Linked DNA regions of Homo sapiens: all the other regions are linked to region 4. The links come from fine-mapping of genetic effects on gene expression. A gene starts in region 4. Each other region holds a variant in brackets. All regions are shown on one strand. Distances are from middle to middle.

Region 1 (5,210 bases), 27 kb before region 4:
GTTTGGATAAGCAGGATAAACCAGGGTCCTACTGTTAGGATGGGTTTTTTTTTTTTTTTGAGATGGAGTCTCGCTCTGTCGCCTAGGCTGGAGTGCAGTGGCGCGATCTCGGCTCAGTGTAACCTCTGCTTCCCAGGTTCAAGCAATTCTCTGCCTCAGCCTCCCGAGTAGCTGGGATTACAGGCACCCACCATGCCTGGCTACTTTTTTGTATATTTAGTAGAGACAGGGTTTCACCATCTTGACCAGGCTGATCTTGAACTCCTGACCTCGTGATCCACCCGCCTCGGCCTCCCAAAGTGCTGGGATTACAGGCATGAGCCACCATGCCTGGCTGTTTGTTCTTATCTAATTTCTCTTTTTGGCCCAAGCTGACATTTTGCCCAGCAATGCTGGCAGGGAGCTTATGTTGAAGCAGCCTCTGATACTCTCACCTGCAGCCTATCATCTGACCACACACAGGAGCTACCAGCAACTAAAAGTGCTAAAAGCCAAGGCTGCCTATAGGAGAAGGAAAGAGGTCAGCAAGAAACTGGTCTCCATGATGAGCCCTCCTGTGCTCTGGCCTTTTTTTTTTTTTTTTTTTTTTTTTTTTTTTGGTAGATATAATTCAAATACCTCGTGGTATTTAAATTTTTTTAATTTATCTTTTTTTTTTTTTTTTTTTTTTGAGAGATGGAGTCTCAGTCTGTCGTCCAGGCTGGAGTGCAGTGGCGCAATCTCAGCTCACTCCAACCTCCGCCTCCTGGGTTCCAGCGATTCTCCTGCCTCAGCCTCTCGAGTAGCCAGGGATTTACAGATGCATGCCACCATGCCTGGCTAATTTTTGTATTTTTTTAGTAGATGCAGGGTTTCACCATATTGGCCAGAATGATCTCAAACTCCTGACCTCGTGATCCACCCACCTTGGCCTCCCAAAGTGCTAGGATTATAGGCATGAGCCACCGTGCCCTGCTAAATTTACCATTTTAAAATGTGTATTTTAATGGTTTTTAGTGCTGACAAGGTTGTGCAACCATCACCATTATCTATTGCATATTTTTTTTTCTTTTTTTGAGATGGAGTCTTGCTCTGTCACCCAGGCTGGAGTGCAGTGGCATGATCTCGGCTCACTGCAACCTCCACCTCCTTGGTTCATGCAATTCTCCTGCCTCAGCCTCCCGAGTAGCTGGGATTACAGGCACACACCACTACGCTCAGCTAGTTTTTCTATTTTTAGTAAAGATAGGGCTTCACCATGTTGGGCCTGGCTGGTCTTGAACTCCTGACCTCAAGTGATCCACTCGCCTCGGCCTCCCAGAGTGCTGGGATTACAGGTGTGAGCCACCGTGCCCGGCCAACTGCAGAATATTTTCAATGCCTCCCTAAATATCTATATACATATCTGATATCTATCAGCATTCACCCCTCATTTCCCCTGTTCCCCAGAGCCCCCAGCAATCACAAATCTACTTTTGTTCCTATGGATTGGCCTATTCTGGGTATTTCACATAAACAGAATCACATAATATGTGAGCTTTTGTGTTAGGCTTCTTTCACTTAGCATAATGTCTTCAAGACCCCTCTGTGTTGGGGCATGAATTGGTACTTCATTACTTTTCATGGCTGAATAATATTCCATTGGATGCATATATATATATATATACTCTATTCATATTACTTTTAATGGATGAATATTCCACTGGATGCATATATACTCTATTCATTCTCTGAAGCCGTGTGTGCTGTTTCCACTTTTTAGTTATTGTGGCTAAACCTGCTATGAACATTCACATACAAGCTCCTAGGTGAACACGGATGTCCTGTTCTCTTGGGTATATAAGTAGGAGTGAAATTACTGAGTCATACGGTAACACCATGTTTAACTTTTTGAGGAATTGCCAGTGTTTTCCTCTATTGGATTTTTTGACTTGATACCTATATAACTTTAATAAATATTTTTATTTTATTATTTTTTGAGACAGAGTCTTGCTCTGTCACCCAGGCTGGAGTGCAGTGGTGCGATCTTGGCTCACTGCAAACTCCTCCTCCCAGGTTCAAGCAATTCTTGTGCCTCAGCCTCCCAAGTAGCTGGAACTACAGGCATGTGGCACCATGCCCAGTGCAATGGTTCCCATTCAGGGGGCTCTGCCCTGTCTTGTCCCAGCCCCTGTACCTAACAACAAAGGCCCGCCAAACTCACGTGGAAAGCCGGCCTGCCGGATCAGCTTCTTTTTGGACAGCACCTTCATTGCCTGCAGGAAAATGAAGGACAGCACCTTTAGCCAGGTCCTGTTTAAAGCAGGGAGGAAAAGGGGAAGGAGGGCGCAGTCGGGGTTCCTCTACTCCAAAGCCGGCCCAAGCTCCTGGCCCCCTGGCAGGCTCAGGTCAACAGAGTGAGCCCCTCATTACCAGAGAGGGTCAAGCAGCCATGGGGTTGTAGGGAGGCTGGACTCCTGGGGTGCCTCCAGCTCTGAGGTGTTCCTGAGGCTCACGGTCGCCTCTCTCAGCTGGGAAACCACGAGCCTCAGGACTTGCTGCCATCGAATCAAAACACAAGTGAGCTGGAGCAATGGGCAAAGGAGGGGCAGGACTGGTTGTTTTACACACGGGGAAACTGAGGCTCAGCTGTTTTACACATGGGGAAACTGAGGCTCAGCTGTTTTACACATGGGGAAACTGAGGCTCAGCTGTTTTACACATGGAGAAATATCACTTGTCAAGGTCACATGGTTGGCACACGATAGATTCAGGTTCAAAACTACGCTGGACTGACTCCAAAGCCACCCACACAGACACCTGTCTCACTGCTGCCTTGTTCTCAATACTATGGAGGATGCAGAGATGACAGCTCAGAGGAAGGGCATAAAAGCCTTTTGCTGAATGAGTAACTTTTTCTGGGCCAATCCCCTCACCTCCCCATTTTCCTATCTGTAAAATGGGCATACCACTTCCTTCCTAAGGCACAAAATAAACATGACCTAAGAATAAAATGAGACAACAGCTAGGAAAACTTTCCAGGAAGCTGAGTGCTGGAAAGGAGGCTCTTCTGTGGATAAGGATGGGGGCAGGGAGGAGAATGC[G/A]GATACTCACATAGTAGGTATTGTCATTTTCATTGTAGGCCAACTTGACGACACCATAGGAGCCCTGGATAAAGGGAGATGCCCATGACATACTATCCAGAAGTTAAGATCTGCAAAATGAGAACCCTAATACAGACGTTGCAAACCGGCAGCCCATTGGTCAAATCTGTCCCGCAACTGTATTTTGTTGGAGCCCAGGTTTTTACAAAGTTTGGATTAGTTGCCAAGATTTAAAAACAGAAAGATCTGGGCGGAGCGCAGTGGCTCATACCTGTAATCCCAATACTTTGGGAGGCCGAGGCAGGCGGATCACTTGAGTTAAGGAGTTTGAGACCAGCCTGGCCAACATGATGAAACCGCGTCTCTACTAAAAATACAAAAATTAGCCGGGGCATGGTAGCAGGCACCTGTAATCCCAGCTACTCAGGGGGCTGAGGCTTGAGAATCACTTAAACCCGAAAGCAGAGGCTGCAGTGAGCCAAGATTTCGGCACTGTACTCCAGCCTGGGCGACACAGTGAAATTCAGTCTCAAAAAAAAACAGAAAGGTCTGATATAGAAATCTATATTCCTTGCCAGGCAAGGTGGCTTACACCTGTAATCCCAGCACTTTGGGAGGCCGAGGCGGGCAGATCACTTGAGGTCAGGTTTGAGAACAGCCTGGGCAACATAGTGAAACCCTGTCTCTACAAAAATTACAAAAATTAGCCAGGTGTGGTGGTGCACACCTGTACTCCCAACTACTTGGGAGGCTGAGGCAGGAGAATCGCTTGAGCCTAGGAGGCAGAGGTTGCAGTGAGCCGAGATTGCGCCACTGCGCTCCAGCCTTGGTGATAGAGCAACACCCTGTCTAAAAAAAAAAAAAAAAATCAAGATTCCTAGTTTATTTTGAAAAAATGGAAAGATCTAGCTATATGTAGCCCTCATTTCCATATGTTAATGGTTTGCCACTGTCCTTACCACTCCCTACTACCTTACAGCTGGCATGCCTCACTCCTTTATATTACTTACTTGTTTTCTACTGGCATTTGGAGTTTTGACCATGGTGATGATACCCCCCATTAGCTAAAACAAAAGCAAAACTAGATGTCAGAGTACCTCGGGGTGAAACAAAACCCCAAATGTATTGGGGATGTAACTATCACCAAGGCGATATGGAATTTCGTTGGAAGCTTTCTGAGCTTCTGCAGAAACATATTTAATTTTAAGATACAAGAAAACAAAACTAAACCAAAAACCTAGATCATTAATGACAAAACCCTCTCCACCAACCTCGCCTTCAAAGACTCCTCTCCTGCTCCCAGCTTTACCCCGTTCCCTCCACAGTATCTGAACGCCCCTGGTGAATGCAGAAAGCCAGCCTAGCCCCAGGGATATTTACCTTTCCAATTTCATCCTTCAGGGTATACTGATTCAGCTGCACACAGTCCTAGAGAGTAAGGAGAGACACGTGCAAAATGAATTTTAAGTTTGCAACTAGAGGCCAGGCACGGTGGCTCACACCTACAAGCCCTTCAGGAGACCAAGGTGGGAGGATCACTTGAGTTCAGGAGTTCCAGACCAGCCTGGCCAACATGGTGAAATCCCATCTCTATTAATAATATAAAAATTAGCCAGGCGTGGTGGTGGGCACCTGTAATCCCAGCTACTCAGGAGGCTGAGGCACGAGAATCGCGTGAGCCCAGGAGGTGGAGGTTGCTTGAGCGGAGATTGCACCATTGCACTCCAGCCTGGGCAAAAGAGTAAAACTGTGTCTCAAAAAAAAAAAAAAAAAAGTTTGCAACTAGATACATTTCTCCAAATTAAACACATACAGGTAACCAGAACCCAAATCAAGAAAGAGAACATCCCCAGCTCCCAGAAGCCACTCGCACCTCTGCCCTCCCCCAGGTGGCCACTCTCTTGACTTCTAACAACGCTGATTTTGCTTGTTGTACTTTGTCAAAATGTAACCACACACTGTGGACTCTTGTAAAACCCATTTTTTAAAGAAGGTTGTTCCTACTTTTAAAAAGTAAATTTTAAATCAAACAAGTAATCCTTGGCTACATTGTCCTGTAAAAACATAAAGTGATACAAGAAAAGCAAGTCTGTGCAACCTTGGGGTAGACAAGGGTTTCTTAGATAATACAAAAAAGGTACAGACAAA
Region 2 (5,210 bases), 46 kb before region 4:
CTTGGTCAGTGGCGATTCCCAGAGCCTCCAAGGTTAGGCCTGAGGACTCTACATTCTGGCTCCTTCTTCCTGGGTCAGGATCCAAATTCAAGGCCATAAAAGGGGACCTACTTGCTCCTAAGCAATTCTCACTCTCAGGAGATGGGCAGAACTTTCTGAGTGTGTGCGTGGAAGTCCCTGCCCCTACCCCTGGTGGCTGCCCACACAGCAGACGTGAGATATGCTACGCCATCCACCCTGGAGCCTAAAATTCCAGCTAGGCGGGAATCCTGGCTTAGAGACCTGGGCTCCGGCTCCCAACCCTTGCCCCTGCCTGGAACTTCTCCTAGTTCCTCTCCCCTGATGAGCTCTGAAAGCAGGAATTCCAGAAGGATAATCTTCCCCTTCCTATGGTAACATGGAACCTGGCTCAGAAGATGCAGGGGTCACCTGGCCTGATACATGACCAAGGCCCAGAGGCCAGCAGCTGTGGATTAGGGGTGGCCCCCGGACATCTGACTCCCGGGCACCCGCCTGTGTCCGGCCTGTCCTGGCCAGGCCCCACCTCAGGCTCCTGGGTCCCTGCTCTGGGTCAGGGGTCCATCCACCTTACCACGGTTGCCAAGCTGGGAATGTGTTTGACTGAGTTCTCGACCTCCTCTTCAGTCACTTCGACCAGCGTGCAGTTCTCATCCTCCGACGGCAACGGCTCCGCCCCATGCCTCGTGACCCAGGGGTGCAGCTTCAACGAACGACAGGAGGGGTGAGGGGCAGGTGTGGCTGGCTACCGGGGGGCCCTGCCAGCGAGCGGAGCCACAAGGGCATGCAGGACGGAGAGGCAAGGGCCTGTGGTCAGGCATGCAAAACAGCTGGCGAGCAGAGGGCAGGGGTGAGCAAAGGGGCGGAAACATGAAGACGGAGAGACAGGACGGGAGGAGCTACAAGGCTGAAATGGAAGTGGGGCGATTCTCCATCCGGCCCCGGGTCTTGGCCGAAGTGATGGGAATTTGGCATCTGCCTTGCCTGGCTGCCCAAGGAGCATCCATCACTCCTCAGCCACAATCCCTGACACCTGGGAGGCTCAGTGCACAGCAGGCAGCATTCTCCCCATCTCACAGCAGGAGAGGCTTGGAGGCATGGTGGGACCAGCTGGCAGGACAGGATCAGGAGAGGACCCAGGCAGGGGTCTGCCCCCTTGGGTCCAAGCCCCAATCCATGATTTTTTGGGCTGCCTTCTGTTAAGACCTTCAAATGCCAGTTAGCTAGCTGCCTAGGAAGTCCCAGGGCAAATCTCTAGATTTCCTAGAGGGCCAGATATATGTGTGTGGCATTAGTGGAGATGTGTAGGGGAATACACTTTCCTAAAAGTGCTTTCTGCAAGAGGGTGGGATTCAGCAGGCTGGGGAGGTCGAATTGCTCATTAATTTCCTCCCATCCTCACTGCAGTTTCTCAAAGGGACGGGCCTTTGGAAAGGACCTGAGCTCTGGGAATAGGGTGTGGAGCACGGAGGCCCCATGCCGGTCTGCAGAGGGTGGATCCCATCAGCCCACGCCAATCAGAGCAAGTGCAGGCTGGCGGGTCATAGATCCCACTCCCACAGTCACAGTGCACACAATGCCCAAATCTTCCTACCCAGCCCTCAACAGCCCCCAGCAGCTCAGAGGCCCTGGGGCATAGGAGAACAGCGGTGCCAAGGAGGGTGTGGTGCTGTGGACACAAGGGTGTGGGGTCTGGCTGAGGCATGGCTGAGCCAAACAATTCCGAGCACGGGGCACAGGCTGAGCCAAGGGTACCTTGATTTCCGGCACCACGATCCTCGACTCGGGGTTCTTGTCCAGCATACGGGTGATCAGGTCCTTCAAGTCCTCAGCTATGTCGGGCCTGGGGATGGAGAGGCGTCAGGGTGGCAGACACGGGACCGCCAAGAACTCGGACAGGAGAGATGCGGGACGGCGGGAGATACTCACTGGTCTGGAAATTCCAGGGCCTGACTCTTGATCTTACTGTGTAAACACATGATCCGCTCGTCCATGAATGGGCACTGCAAAGAGGCCAGGGACAGAGTGGCAGTCAATGGCGGCCACATCTGCCCTTCGAGGGCCACCTGTGCTGTGCCACTCCACATAGGATACAGCAGAGAAATCAACAATTGCGGCCCAGGCTAGGGGGCAAGCAGTTCCCATTCTCCCCGAGAATGGCCAAGACACAGGGGTGTGGGGCCTGGCCGAC[G/A]CAGGGCAGAGCCAGGAATGGCCCTCTCGAAGGGCTAGAGCCTTTCCCAAGCACACTGCAGGCTCCCTCTGTAGCTGGGCCTCAGTTTACCTACTTACACCAAAGCAAACACTGCTCGTCACCTACTTGCCAGGTGAACAACAGGAACAACAAGAATAACACAAAAGACTTTGTGTTATTTGTGGCAGCAGCAGTGATTTTCAAGGGCTTAGCCTGGATCGCGCCACGCCCTGCCCTGAGGTTTTCATTCACTGTTCCCCGTCCCTGGAATGTTCTTCTCACCAACATCTACGTGGCTTGGTCTCTCCCACCATGCAGGTGTCTGACTAAAGCTCACCTTCTCAGGGAGGACTTCCTGAAGCCCTGTCTAAAACAGACAACCCCCAATGCCGCCACCGCCCACATCACTCCTCATCGTAGCACTTATCCCTGACGTTATCGTACAGATTTGTTTATTGTTTAACCCCTCCCACGGGAACGTTAGCTCCAAGAAGGCAGGGATTTCTGGCTGTCTTGCTCACTGCGGACTCTCCGTGCCTAGGAGCGTTCCTGCACAAAGTAAGGGCTCAATAAATATCTGCTGAATTAATGGATACTTGAATTATTTCTGTCAATCCTCTCAGAAGTCATCAGAAATAATAAGTAGTATTCTCATTTTACAGAAGAGAAAAACAGAAGTTCAGAGAAATAATGTGTCCCAGGAAGTACGAAGAGGGATTTAAGCCTAGATTCAGCTGACTCTGAAGCCTATTTTTGCACCACCTTCTGGGTGACAAATCGATGCTTTCACCCAGCTGAGGGCCTGACTCAAGAGCAGCTTGGTCATGTGTGCTGGAAAAGGAATCCTTACACGGGACACTGAAAATGTTGGAGAAGGTGGCAGAGAGGTACCTGAACCACCCGTCTAAGGAAAACGATTTCATTAAGAGCAGTGACTTGAGCTCTACCTAATCACTGCCTTCTAAGGCATTTGGAAGGAAGAGTGGAGATGGTGGTAACTTACTCTGAAATACATTAAGAAACCAGATGGACTGAGGGATGGGTAAGGAATGAACAGACAAGCACAGGAAAAGGTTAATATAGTAGAATCCAGGTGGTGGGTATGTGGGTGTTCACTGGACACTTCTTCCAGCTTTGCTACATGATTGAAAAATTTTCTAATCAAATATTGAGAGGCAATCGGTATAAACTCCTTTACTTCTTCATGGGACCAGTTTCTTAGGCTTTCCTCAATAAGAACACAAGCTCAGGAAAGGGAAAAATCTACGTTTTTATTGCTCACATAATCAAACTGAACTTCAGAGTTAAAACGAGAAGGCCAGGCGTGGTGGCTCACACCTGTAATCCCAAATCCCAGCACTCTGGGAGGCCCAGGCTGGCAGATCATTTGAGGTCAGGAGTTTGAAACCAGTCTGGCCAACATGGCAAAACACTATCTCTACAAAAATACAAAAATTAGCCGGGTGTGGTGGCTGGCATCTGTAGTCCCAGCTACTCAGGAGGCTGAGGCAGGAGAATGGCTTGAACCCGGGAGGCGGAGGTTGCAGTGAGCCGAGATCGCACCACTACACTCCAGCCTGGGTGACAGAGCAAGACTCCATCTCAAAAAAAAAAAAAAAAAAAATAGAGAGAGAAGCCCCCAGATATCAATAATAACAAAATAACAACAACAGAAAAGCCCAAACAGCACTCCCTAAATCAATAATGGTAAACAGCTTTTAACTTCCATTCCAATGCTACCCCTCTGACAAAAGCTTCTAGGAATACCCTGACGGAAAGAACATCAGAGCAGTATCAGGCTCAGGAGGAACGAGCACAGTTATTGATTAGTGATGTCTGCCTTGGGCTCAGAAATGGGAGAGGTGGCAGAACTGCTGTCCTTGCCCTAAATTTATCAACTATTTATAAACTCTAGAGCCTCTGCCAATCCTTCTGTTTTAACAGATCATTTTTTCATAGATATGATCATGACATACATACACATGTATATTTAGGAAGGCATCCTTTTTCACATTGAGATCTAGGTGTAGAAATAAAATAACTCTTCTCTTATTTTATTTTTTGAGACGGAGTCTCGCTCTTGTTGCCCAGGCTGGAATACAATGGTGCAATCTCAGCTCACTGCAAGCTCCGCCTCCTGGGTTCAGGCGATTCTCCTGCTTCAGCCTCCAGAGTAGCTGGGACTATAGGCATGCGCCATCACGCCTGGCTAATTTTTTGTATTTTTAGTAAAGACGGGGTTTCACCATGTTGGCCAAGCTGGTCTCCAACTCCTAACCTCTGCCTCAGCCTCCCAAAGTGCTGGGTTTACAGGCGTGAGCCACCATGCCCAGCCTAAAATAACTCTTAAATAAGTAAGTACTGTCTCCCCGCAAGGGTGACTATTAACCCAGGGGCCACCCAGCAGTACTGAGGGGACAGACACCCCGCCCTCTTACCTGGCCAAAGACAAAGCAGTATAGTGTCACACCCATGGCCCAAACATCCAAGGCCTGCAAGAAAAAGAGCTTAGTGTGAGGGCATAAGGGGTGGTCCAGCCTCCAATCCTCCAGTTTTCCTTTGGGGAACCACCTCTTGACTTTCAGCCCTTGGAGTTGGGGCGGGACCAATCTTGTCTCCTAGGCTCTGGGGCAGGCACAGGATCCAGGCCAGGCCAATGAGAGCACCACTACCCCCAGCCACAGTGATTGGTTCAAGCATGGGCACATGACCCATGTTGGGCCAATCAGAGCCAACCCCAGGGTTTTCACAGGCACTATTCAGAATGAGGAATGCTCTTGCCACTGAGGTTGGCAAATGATAGAAAGTAACCTGGTCCCTGGGTGCCTGACCCACCTGTGGAGGAAACCAAATAAGAAAAACAACTGAAAGATGGCGGGAGATGGTTTCTGTTTGAGTCCCTGGATCTAGCCAAGCCTGAAGCCTACCCCTCAGTATCTTGATCCAGGGGATTCACTGTTTAAGCCTGTGTGCGTTGGGTTTCTGCTGCTTACAATCCAGA
Region 3 (5,210 bases), 94 kb before region 4:
GCCACCACGCCCGGCTAATTTTTTGTATTTTTAGTACAGATGGGGTTTCACTGTGTTAGCCAGGATGGTCTCAATAGCCAGGATGGTCTCAATCTCCTGACCTCATAATCCACCCACCTCGGCCTCCCAAAGTGCTGAGATTACAGTCTTTTTTTTTTTTTTTTTTTTTTTTTTTGGAGCCGAAGTCTCCCTCTGTTGGTTTAGTGGTGCGATCTTGGCTCATCGCAACCTCTGCCTCACGGGTTCAAGCGATTCTCCTGCCTCAGCCTCCTGAGTAGCTGGGACTACAGGTGCATGCCACCATGCCTGGCTAATTTTTCTATTTTTAGTAGAGATAGGGTTTCCCTATGTTGGCCAGGCTGGTCTTGAACTCCTGACCTCATGATCTGCCCACCTTGGCCTCCCAAAGTGCTGAGATTACAGGCGTGAGCCACCGCGCCTGGCCTAATCTAGCACTTTAAAGACAAATACTAGGGAAGAAAAGAGATTGATTCAAAGAATCATTCTGGTCAGGCGCGGTGGCTCACACCTGTAATCCCAACACTTTGGAAGGCCAAGGCAGGAGGTTTGCTTGAGCCCAGGAATCAAGACCAGGCTGGGTAAAACAGTGAGACTCCATCTCTATCAAAAAAAAAAAAAAGATCATTCTCCCTGGATGAAGCAAGATGCTTCTCTTCTTTTGATGTGTATAATTTAGATTCTAACACACGCTGTTTTGTATCTTGCCTTGCCTTTTTCCTCACTTAACATTACAGCATAAGCATTTCCTCCATATAATTAAATATACTTCATAAACATTTTTAGGAGTAGCTTTAAAATTGTTTTTCTTTTCTTTTCTTTTCTTTTTTTCTGAAATGGAGTTTCGCTCTATCACCCAGGCTGGAGTGCAGCGGCACAATCTCGGCTCACTGCAACCTCCGCCTCCCGGGTTCAAGCGAGTCTCCTGCCTCAGCCTCCAAAGTAGCTGGTACTAGAGGCACCCGCCACCACACCCAGCTAATTTTTGTATTTTTAGTAGAGGCGGGGTTTCACCATGTTGGCCAGGCTGGTCTCGATCTCTTGACCTCGTGATCGGCCCACCTTGGCCTCCCAAAGTGCTGGGATTACAGGTGTGAGCCACCGTGCCCGGCCTTCTCTTAAGAAAAGTAATCAACTTCAGAGTAGACATTTTTAAAAATGCAGATAAGTATGCAGAGCAAAAATCATCTATAGTTTCACCCTTCCCAGAAAAACCAGTTAAGATTTTAATTTATGATCTGCCACACTTTTTTCTATAAACACAAAAATTTGAAGACCCAGTACACATATTGCCCTGTTATATTTTTCCATTTAATTATCTCAAATATCTTTCCACAGCATACTATCATTATTTTATTTTATTTTATCTTGAGATGGAGCCTCATTCAGCCGGGCGCAGTGGCTCACACCTATAAACCCAGCACTTTGGGAGGCCAAGGCGGGTGGTTCACCTGAGGTCAGGAGTTCGAGACCAGCCTGGCCAACATGGGGAAACCCCGTCTCTACTAAAAATACAAAAAATTAGCCAGGTGTGGTGGTGGGCGCCTATAATCCCAGCTACTTGGGAGGCTGAGGCAGGAGAATTGCTTGAACCCAGGAGATGGAGGTTGCAGTGAGCCAAGATCACGCCATTGCACTCCAGCCTGGGGGACAGAGCAACACTCTGTCTCTAAAAAAATAAATAAATAAAAAATAAAAAAGCTTTTCAATAGTTTTGCCTTGCTGGACTCACTGGGTTATGTCTGTAATCCCAGCACTTTGGGAAGCAGAGCTGGGAGAATTGCTTCAGGCCAGGAGTTTGACATCAGCCTGGGCAACATAGTGAGACCCCATTTCTTTCTTTTTTTTTTTTTTTTTAAGAATTTTAAAAAACGGGCGGGGCACAGTGGCTCACGCCTGTAATCCTAGCACTTTGGGAGGCCCAGGTGGGCAGATCACCTGAGGTCGGGAGTTCGAGACCAGCCTGACCAACATGGAGAAACCCCATCTCTACTAAAAATACAAAATTAGCCAAGCGTGGTGGTGCATGCCTGTAATCCCAGCTACTTGGGAGGCTGAGGCAGGAGGATTGCCTGAACCTGGGAGGCAGAGGTTGCGGTGAGCCAAGATCGCACCATTGCACTCCAGCCTGGGCAACAAGAGCGAAATTCCGTCTCAAAAAATAAAAATAAAAATAAAAAAAGTTAAAAACTAAAAAAAAAATCATAAATGTTACACATTTTCAACCAAGTAAAACGAAATAAAATATATAGATTTTACATTATTTCCATTCTATATATTACAATTTTTTCTT[C/T]GTGGCACAGTGACATGAAATTTCATTGTGAAATTTAAAAAGAAACAAACAAAAATTTGTTGTGAAAATCACATACAGGATTGATGAATTTGGGGCTGCCTCTTGTTTTCAGCAGTATCAGACAATTCCCCCACACTGCCTCTTGCAGTCACAGGTTATTCCCCATCCACCTTTTATTCTACGCTGCCTATCAAAGGGTGTGATCTCTGAGGTCTTTTACAGCCTAAAGACCGAATGTCAAATGTGCTAAGATGTCAAGATCCAGGTATTAGAATATGTCCAGCTCATCTGCAGGAATATCATCCTTCCCCATCTCCTCCATTTCAACAACCTGTAATTCCTCCCACCCACTGAATGGGAGAAAACATCTATAGATCATATATCTGATATGGAATTTGTATCTAGAATATATAAAGAAGTCTTACACTTTAAAACCATAATACAAGTGGCCGGCATGGTGGCTCACGCCTGTAATCCCAGCAATTTGGGAGGCCAAGGTGGGTGGATCATCTGAGGTCAGGAGTTTGAGACCAGCCTGATCAACAGGGTGAAACCCTGTCTTTACTAAAAATACAAAAATTAGCAGGGCATGGTGGTGGGTGCCTGTAATCCCAGCTACTACTTGGGAGGCTGAGGCAGGAGAATTGCTTGAACCTGGGAGGCGGAGGTTGCAGTGAGCTGACATCCCGCCACTGCACACCAGCCTGGGCAACAGAGAGAGACCCTGTGTCAAAAAAACGAAAAGGACGTTGGGTCTGATGGGGTTGAGAGGATTATCTGTGATCAACATATGGCCTGTTAGATAAGAGTCAGGGTTTTTCTGTTCTGTTTTTTTGCTTTTTGTTTTTTTTGTTGTTGTTGTTCCACAATAGATTCAGTCTCAAGCACTACCCAGGGAAAGCAACAGCAAAATTATAAAATAATTTATTCCTCACTTCTGCTATCAACTTGTTCTTTATTTAGACGTTCTGTTTCTGGAAGTATATATAATTATACTGTGTGCCACACGTATCTGTCATTCTGTTATACAATGACGTATTTCACAATGTCTATGTGCCAGATAAGCGAGTCTTACATCTTTAAATGCCTAAACATTTAATTTAAACATTTTTTCATTGTAGATTCTCCTAAACAAATGACACTGTCTCTTCTGACTGGCCTTTTGCGGCTCAAGGCCATTGTAACAAATGTCAGTCTTACATAACCATAACCAAATGACACCCTAAGGCACACTGAGGTCTCTAAACTAAATGGCCCCAGACTGATGAGCTTTTCGGAGTTCTTGGCTCTGCTTTTTATAGAAACATTTCTTTTTTATGGGCTATTTGTGTATCGCTGCTCTTAGTATTGGTGGCCTGGGGCAACGCGTCCCACCTCCTTCTAATTTGCTGCATTCAAACAAATGTTTGTTTTACCACCTACGTTACTGGTGACATAATACATTTTTTATCTGTTAGATCCTAGGGCTATAGACATAGTCTTTTCAATTCCAAGTTTCAGAAGGCTACTAGGTTAAGTAAAAAATGAACACTTATTATGAGATTATGGGGGTATCTCAAAGGTAAAGGTGAACGGGGGGAGGAGGCAGAACCAAGAAGTGGAAGCTCAACAGAAACCAGAGGCCGTTCCCTTCGTCTCTCTCACCTCTGTGCATCTTTGCCCGGCTGTTTCATACTTTTGCTTCTGCAGATTACTGTTCTCAGCTTCTCCATGCATACGATGGTTATGTCAAATCAGTTCCAGTCACCTGCAGAGAAGAAAGAGTTGTCACTATCCCAATGCCAAAGCCAGAGGAGAGACTGGCCCGGCTGGGTCAGTTTCCCACCTGTGGTCCAGTCAGCTGTGGCCAGGAAGATAAGGTCACATAGTATAAAAACAGCTGCTGCACCACCTCTGCGAGAAATGACAGCCTAGAGAAAGCAGGTACTGATGAACTGGCTTCACCAGCAACAAAGGAACCAGAAAATCGAAACTGCTCCAATCGCATCTGAACTAAAAAGAGGCCGGGCGCGGTGGCTCACGACTGTAACCCCACGCTTTGGGAGGCCGAGGCAGATGGATCGCTTGAACTCAGGAGTTCAAGACCAGCCTGGGCAACCTGGTGAAACCCCATCTCTACCAAAAATACAAAAAATTAGCTGGGCATGGTGGCGTGTGCATGTAGTCTTAGCTACTTGGGAGGCTGAGGTGGGAGGATTGCTCGAACCCAGGAGGCGGAGGTTGCACTGAGCCGAGATCATGCCACTGCATTCCAGTCCAGGTGACACAGGGAGACCCTGTCTCAAAAAGGAAAAAAAAAAGGTAAGCTTGGTGTGAGGGCCTGAGATGCTCCCCTGTGAAGAAGGAATATGACGTCTGGCCCCATGGATTCGTGGTATATACTTTGCTTTTCTTGAGACCTTGGTTGTTTACTCCCTGTTTACTGGAATTATTACTGAGACATAACTCACATACCATAAAATTTACTCTTTTTAAATGTACAATTCAGCGGCTTTTAGTATATTCACAGGTTCCGCAACTATCACCACTTTCTTTTCCAGCACATTTTCATCACCCTAAATGGAAACCTTGTACTCACCAGCAGCCACTTTCCATCCTTTCTTTCCCCCAGCCCCTGGCAACCACTAATCTACTATCAGTTTTGTTTTGTTTTGTTTTGTTTTGAGACGGAGTTTTGCCCTTGTCGCCCAGGCTGGAGTCCAATGGCGCGATCTCAGCTCACCGCAACCTCCGCCTCCCAGGTTCAAGCGATTTTCCTGCCTCAGCCTCCTGAGTAGCTGGGATTACAGGCGTGCACCACCATGCCCAGCTAATTTTGTATTTTTAGTAGAGATGGGGTTTCTCTATGTTGGTCAGGCTGGTCTCAAACTCCTGACCTCAGGTGATATGCACGCCTCAG
Region 4 (4,492 bases):
CCCTGACTCCCGCCCACTAAAAGCCAGGAGTGCTTAGCATCATTTTGACAACCAAAAGTCGCCCCCACACTTTCCCAAATCCCTGCCAGGAGGGTGGGACCACCCCCGGATGAGAACTAGTGCATTGTTATTAGTGACTATATTTAGCTACCAGCCCACTAGCCATATCTAAGGATGGGCAGTACTACAGACCCTGCATAGAGCTGCATCGGCAAACACTGATGTAGTGAATAAACAAAACAAAACAAACTCCTGGGCTCCTCAAGAAGCTCAGGGCAGCCTTGCCAGGGTCTCTGCTCTTGAACAGGTGCACAAAGGTTCTAAGGCCTGACATGCCTGCACTGGCTGTGTGACCCTGAGCAAGTTACTTAACTTCTCTGAGCCCTTCTATAAAATGGGGCTAAATCCTAGCAACACTGCAGGATTTCTGTAAACCTCAGTCTCCTAATCTCTACTATGGGGTTAAAATTCCCTACGTTGTAGGATTTGGTAGGCATTAAATGAGATAATGCATGTAACACATAGCACAGAATCTGGCAGGCAGCAAGAACTCAATAGATGTTAGTTTTTAATACTGTTATTATTATTATTGTCCAGGGCCAGGTGGCAGCTCATGCCTGTAATCCTAGCACTTGGGAGACTGACGTAGGCGGATCACTTGAGGTAAGGAGTTCAAGACCAGCCTGACCAACATGGTGAAACCCCTTCTCTACTAAAAATACAGAAATTAGCCAGGCATGGTGGTGGGCGCCTGTAATCCCAGCTACTGGAGAGGCTGAGGCATGAGAATCGCTTGAACCCGGGAGGCGGAGGTTGCAGTGAGCCAAGATTGTGCCACTGCACTCCACCCTGGGCAACAGAGACTCCGTCTCAAAATAAATAAATAAGTATTCTTATTATTATCCAAGTTAGGGGCTCATCAAATGATGGCTATTACTCTTCATTACAAAAATATGTTTTGCGTCCTCATCACCAATGCCTGCTTCCTCCATAGGAAGGGTGTGTGTCACCAATGCCTGCTTCCTCCATAGGAAGGGTGTATGAGCAGCAGTCTGGAAGGGGTATGTGGGGCTTGCCCTAAAGCTGCATTTGCATGGCATGCACACTATTTATTCTGAAACTGCATGTTTTTGTGGGGTGATTAGGGAAGAGGGTGGCTAACTCCCCCAAAGCCCTCCCCTTGTTGCAGCCCCCGCCTCCTCCAAGGAACAAAGGAGCTTATGGGGACATAAAGCCATCCTCTTCTCTCTCCTCTGGGGGCAGAGCTAGGGGAGGGGGAGTGGTAAATGGCAGCACAGCTCTAGGGCACCTGAAGTTTCTATCCCCTGCGTGGAGACTCCAAACACCAGGCTGGGGAAGGTAAAAGTAGCCTGTAGGGAGATGGACGCTGCAGGTCCCATCCGGAGGCCAGGTATCCCTCTCTTGCTGATAGCACTGAGACGCCCTCCCCAAAGCTCAGCCTTCTCGGGGAGATCGGAGGGGCTGAGCTGCATCCTGTCCAGCACTAAGTGAGAGTGGCCAGGAGGGCAGGCTGGCAGAGCTGTGAAAGCACCCACTTCCCCAGCTAGGCAGTGCAGGGGCTGGGGGAAAGCCAGGAAAAGCTCAAGGCTGGGTCGGGTGGCACCCCAGGCACAGAGCCCCAATGCTGAGAGGGGCTGGGTCCAGTGTCCCTGAGAGTCAGGCGGACGCCTCTCCGCATTCACAGCATACTGCAACCCCGAGGTGAATTTAGGTCAGAAGGACCAAGCCTGTGAGGCTCCGGCTGAGAGAAGAGGTGCGGTGGGGGTGGTCAAAGGGCAGACCGAAGACAGCCAAAGGTCCCCTAGGTCCCCACAACTGCTGGCCTAGGGTCCTGCCACCTGGTGTCCAAGCCACCAGGGCCTGGGTTTGCCCCGAGACAGGCAGGCTGCGGGGTGGGGGTGCTCCAAGTCCGCTGGTCCTCTCTTCCCCGGAACGCTCCAGATTTCCCCACCTGTCAAACGCGAGGGGCTGGGCCTAGGCCGCCTCCACGAACCCTGACGGACCCGGCCCCCGGTGACCCCGGTTCCAAACTCCAGGACCGCCCCTGCCACCCGGACAGGGCGCGGCCCAGCCGAGGAGGCCATCCCGAGGCCCAGGGCGCCCAGAGGACGCGGGGGAAGGGCTGTCGGGGACCGTGTCCCTCCACGTGGCGGGGCGTGGGGAGGCGCACGTGGGGTCCCTCCGTGTTGGGAGCCCCAGGCCAGCCTCCGGGCTTTGTGTGCCATGCCGGCGGCGGTCCCCCGCCTCGAGAGGGAAACGGAGCGGGCGCCCGGGGCCGCGGCGGCTGCGTCCCTTGCCCCGGGCCCGGCTACCGCCAGCTCACCTGGGCTCCGCGCCGCCGCCGCCTCCCGCGCTCTGCGCCCCCAGCTCGGCTCGGCTCGGCTCAGCTTGCTCTGCGCGGCCGCGCGCTCCTCTCCTCCGCCCGGGCGGCGGGCGCGCGGGGGGCGGGGGCGGGAGGAGCCGCCCGGCTCGGCTTGGGCGCGTCGCCGCCCCGGGCAGCGCGGGGATTGGCCACGGCGGCGGGAAACCCGAAAGCGGAACCGCCCGCGCCCGCCGCGCACCGCCCCCTGCGCGCCCCCGCCGGCTCGGCCCTGCGCCGGGGAGGGGTGGGGAGGCGGGAGCCTGCAAAGACGAAAGTAGCGAAGAGGCGAAGGGCAAGGAGCAGAAAGGGAGGAGGCGAAGAACGGGGGAAGAGAGGCCCGGCCGGGAGGATCGGAGGCGGCTGGGAGGAGAGCCTGGAGGGGCGCGGAGCGCAGGAGGTGGCGCCGCAACTTTGTACCCGCTCGCCCGCGGCGCGCACCTGCCCAGGTTCTTCCCGCGGCGCCCTCGGGCGGGCCGCGCCGGCAGCGCTTGCTTTGTTTAGCCAAATGCCGGGGCTGCAGGGCGCCTCCGGGCTGACCCTGGGAAAGTTCCCCCAAGCCGGCAAGAACACCCGGGGCCCCTCCTGTGGCGACCCGGCTGCTGCCCCTGCGCTAGGCGCCGGGCGGTGGATGCGGCCTGGACTTTGGGCCACCACCGACTCGGGGGAGCCCCCTTCCGCAGCTGCCTGCCGACTGACCACTTGCTCAGGGCCGGCCCTAAAGGCTGGGGGAAGGCGTTCCTCTCCCATCCCCAGCCCACCTGGATGCACCATTGAAGTTCATTCTGGCTTTTCCAGATGGCTACTTAGATGCTTTTTGTGAAATACAGCATATTCTTCCCATTCTCCCCTTTTTGGCACTTACTTTGCTGGAGCCTTAAGTGTGCGTTGGATCCCCCAGCTGGATAACAGCACTGTGCGGGGAAGAGGAGAAACGAAGACCTGGAGGGCTCCCTGAACCGTCCTACGGGGTCGAGCGACCCAGGGGATGTCTCACTGACCCTGCCAAACAGCCAAAAGGGAATCGAGTTGACAGGAGAGTCAACCTCCAAGTTAATAAAAGGTTCAAAGCCCTCTAGTTAACTGGGTGGATTTCCAGCCCGTTCCGATGTGCTTCTCTTGTATTTCTAGGCCGTAGGGACACTCACATGCAACGAGCCAATGAGAGCTCCACCCCGACTCCCTTTTTTTTTTTTTTTTTTTTCTTTTCTGAAACGGAGTCTCGCTCTGTCGCCCACGCTGGAGTGCAGTGACGCGATCTCGGATCACTGCAACCTCTGCCTCCCAGGTTCAAGCAGTTCTCTGCCTCAGTCTCCCGAGTAGCTGGGATTACAGGCGCCGGCCACCATACTTGGCTAATTTTTGTATTTTTCGTAGAGATGGGGTTTCACCATGTTGTCCAGGCTAATCTTGAATTCCTGACCTCGTGATCCACCCGCCTTGGCCTCCGAAAGTGCTGGGATTACAGGTGTGAGTCACCGCGCCCGGCCCACTCCCATTTTTTTTTCTTTGTTTTTTTTGTTTGTTTGTTTGTTTGTTTGTTTGTTTGTTTTGAGACAGGGTCTCTCTGTGTTGCCCAGGCTGGAGTGCAGTAGCACGATCACGGCTCGCTGCACCCTCGACCTCCCCAGGCTCAGGTGATCCTCCAGCCTCAGCCTCCTGAGTAGCTGGGACTACAGGCACACACCACCACACCTGGCTAATTTTTTCTATTTTTTGTAGAGACAGAGTTCTCCCTATGTTGCCCAGGCTGGTCTCAAACTCCTGGGCTCAAGTGATCCTCCTGCCTCTGCCTCCCAAAGTGCTGGGATTATAGGCATGAGCCAACATGCTCGGCCATCCACCTCTTCTGATGTTACTCAACGTGCATGCATTTGCTGGAAATGGCAAAAACCTGAGGCCGGGCATGGTGGCTCACGCCTATGATCCCAGCACTTTGGGAGGCCCGGGCGGAGAGATCACTTGAGGCCAGAAGTTCGAGACTAGCCTGGCCAGCATGGTGAAACCCCATCTCTATCAAAAATACAAAAATTAGCCCGGTGTGGTGGCGGTGCCCGTAATCCCAGCTACTCAGGAGGCTGAAGCACGAGAACCACTTGAACCGGGAGGCAG

What was found. PIP is the estimated chance that this variant, and not a neighbour inherited with it, causes the effect. A credible set is the group of variants that fine-mapping cannot tell apart.
Region 1: its variant is the best candidate, but not a certain one, in a credible set for the expression of CAMKK2 in testis (GTEx, PIP 0.81).
Region 2: its variant is the best candidate, but not a certain one, in a credible set for the expression of CAMKK2 in whole blood (INTERVAL, PIP 0.78).
Region 3: its variant is the best candidate, but not a certain one, in a credible set for the expression of CAMKK2 in visceral fat (GTEx, PIP 0.64).

Annotation. Positions count from the first base shown.
Region 1 is chr12:121,266,456-121,271,665 of GRCh38, forward strand. CAMKK2 (calcium/calmodulin dependent protein kinase kinase 2) reads right to left here. Exons shown (of 17, transcript NM_001270485.2): 3 at 4,443-4,490; 4 at 3,073-3,126; 5 at 2,183-2,234. Among named protein-coding and RNA genes, the nearest start is that of CAMKK2, 28 kb to the right of the region's middle. The variant G/A (reference allele first, on the strand shown) is at 3,063.
Region 2 is chr12:121,248,014-121,253,223 of GRCh38, forward strand. CAMKK2 (calcium/calmodulin dependent protein kinase kinase 2) reads right to left here. Exons shown (of 17, transcript NM_001270485.2): 11 at 4,648-4,701; 12 at 1,948-2,021; 13 at 1,774-1,861; 14 at 593-721. Among named protein-coding and RNA genes, the nearest start is that of P2RX4, 40 kb to the left of the region's middle. RefSeq lists an enhancer at 928-1,007. The variant G/A (reference allele first, on the strand shown) is at 2,210.
Region 3 is chr12:121,199,543-121,204,752 of GRCh38, forward strand. LOC105370032 (a long non-coding RNA gene) reads right to left here. Exons shown (of 4, transcript XR_001749352.3): 2 at 3,956-4,058. Among named protein-coding and RNA genes, the nearest start is that of P2RX4, 8.0 kb to the right of the region's middle. The variant C/T (reference allele first, on the strand shown) is at 2,312.
Region 4 is chr12:121,294,294-121,298,785 of GRCh38, forward strand. It overlaps CAMKK2 (calcium/calmodulin dependent protein kinase kinase 2), which reads right to left and starts at 2,416. Exons shown (of 17, transcript NM_001270485.2): 1 at 2,345-2,416. RefSeq lists a silencer at 1,952-3,101.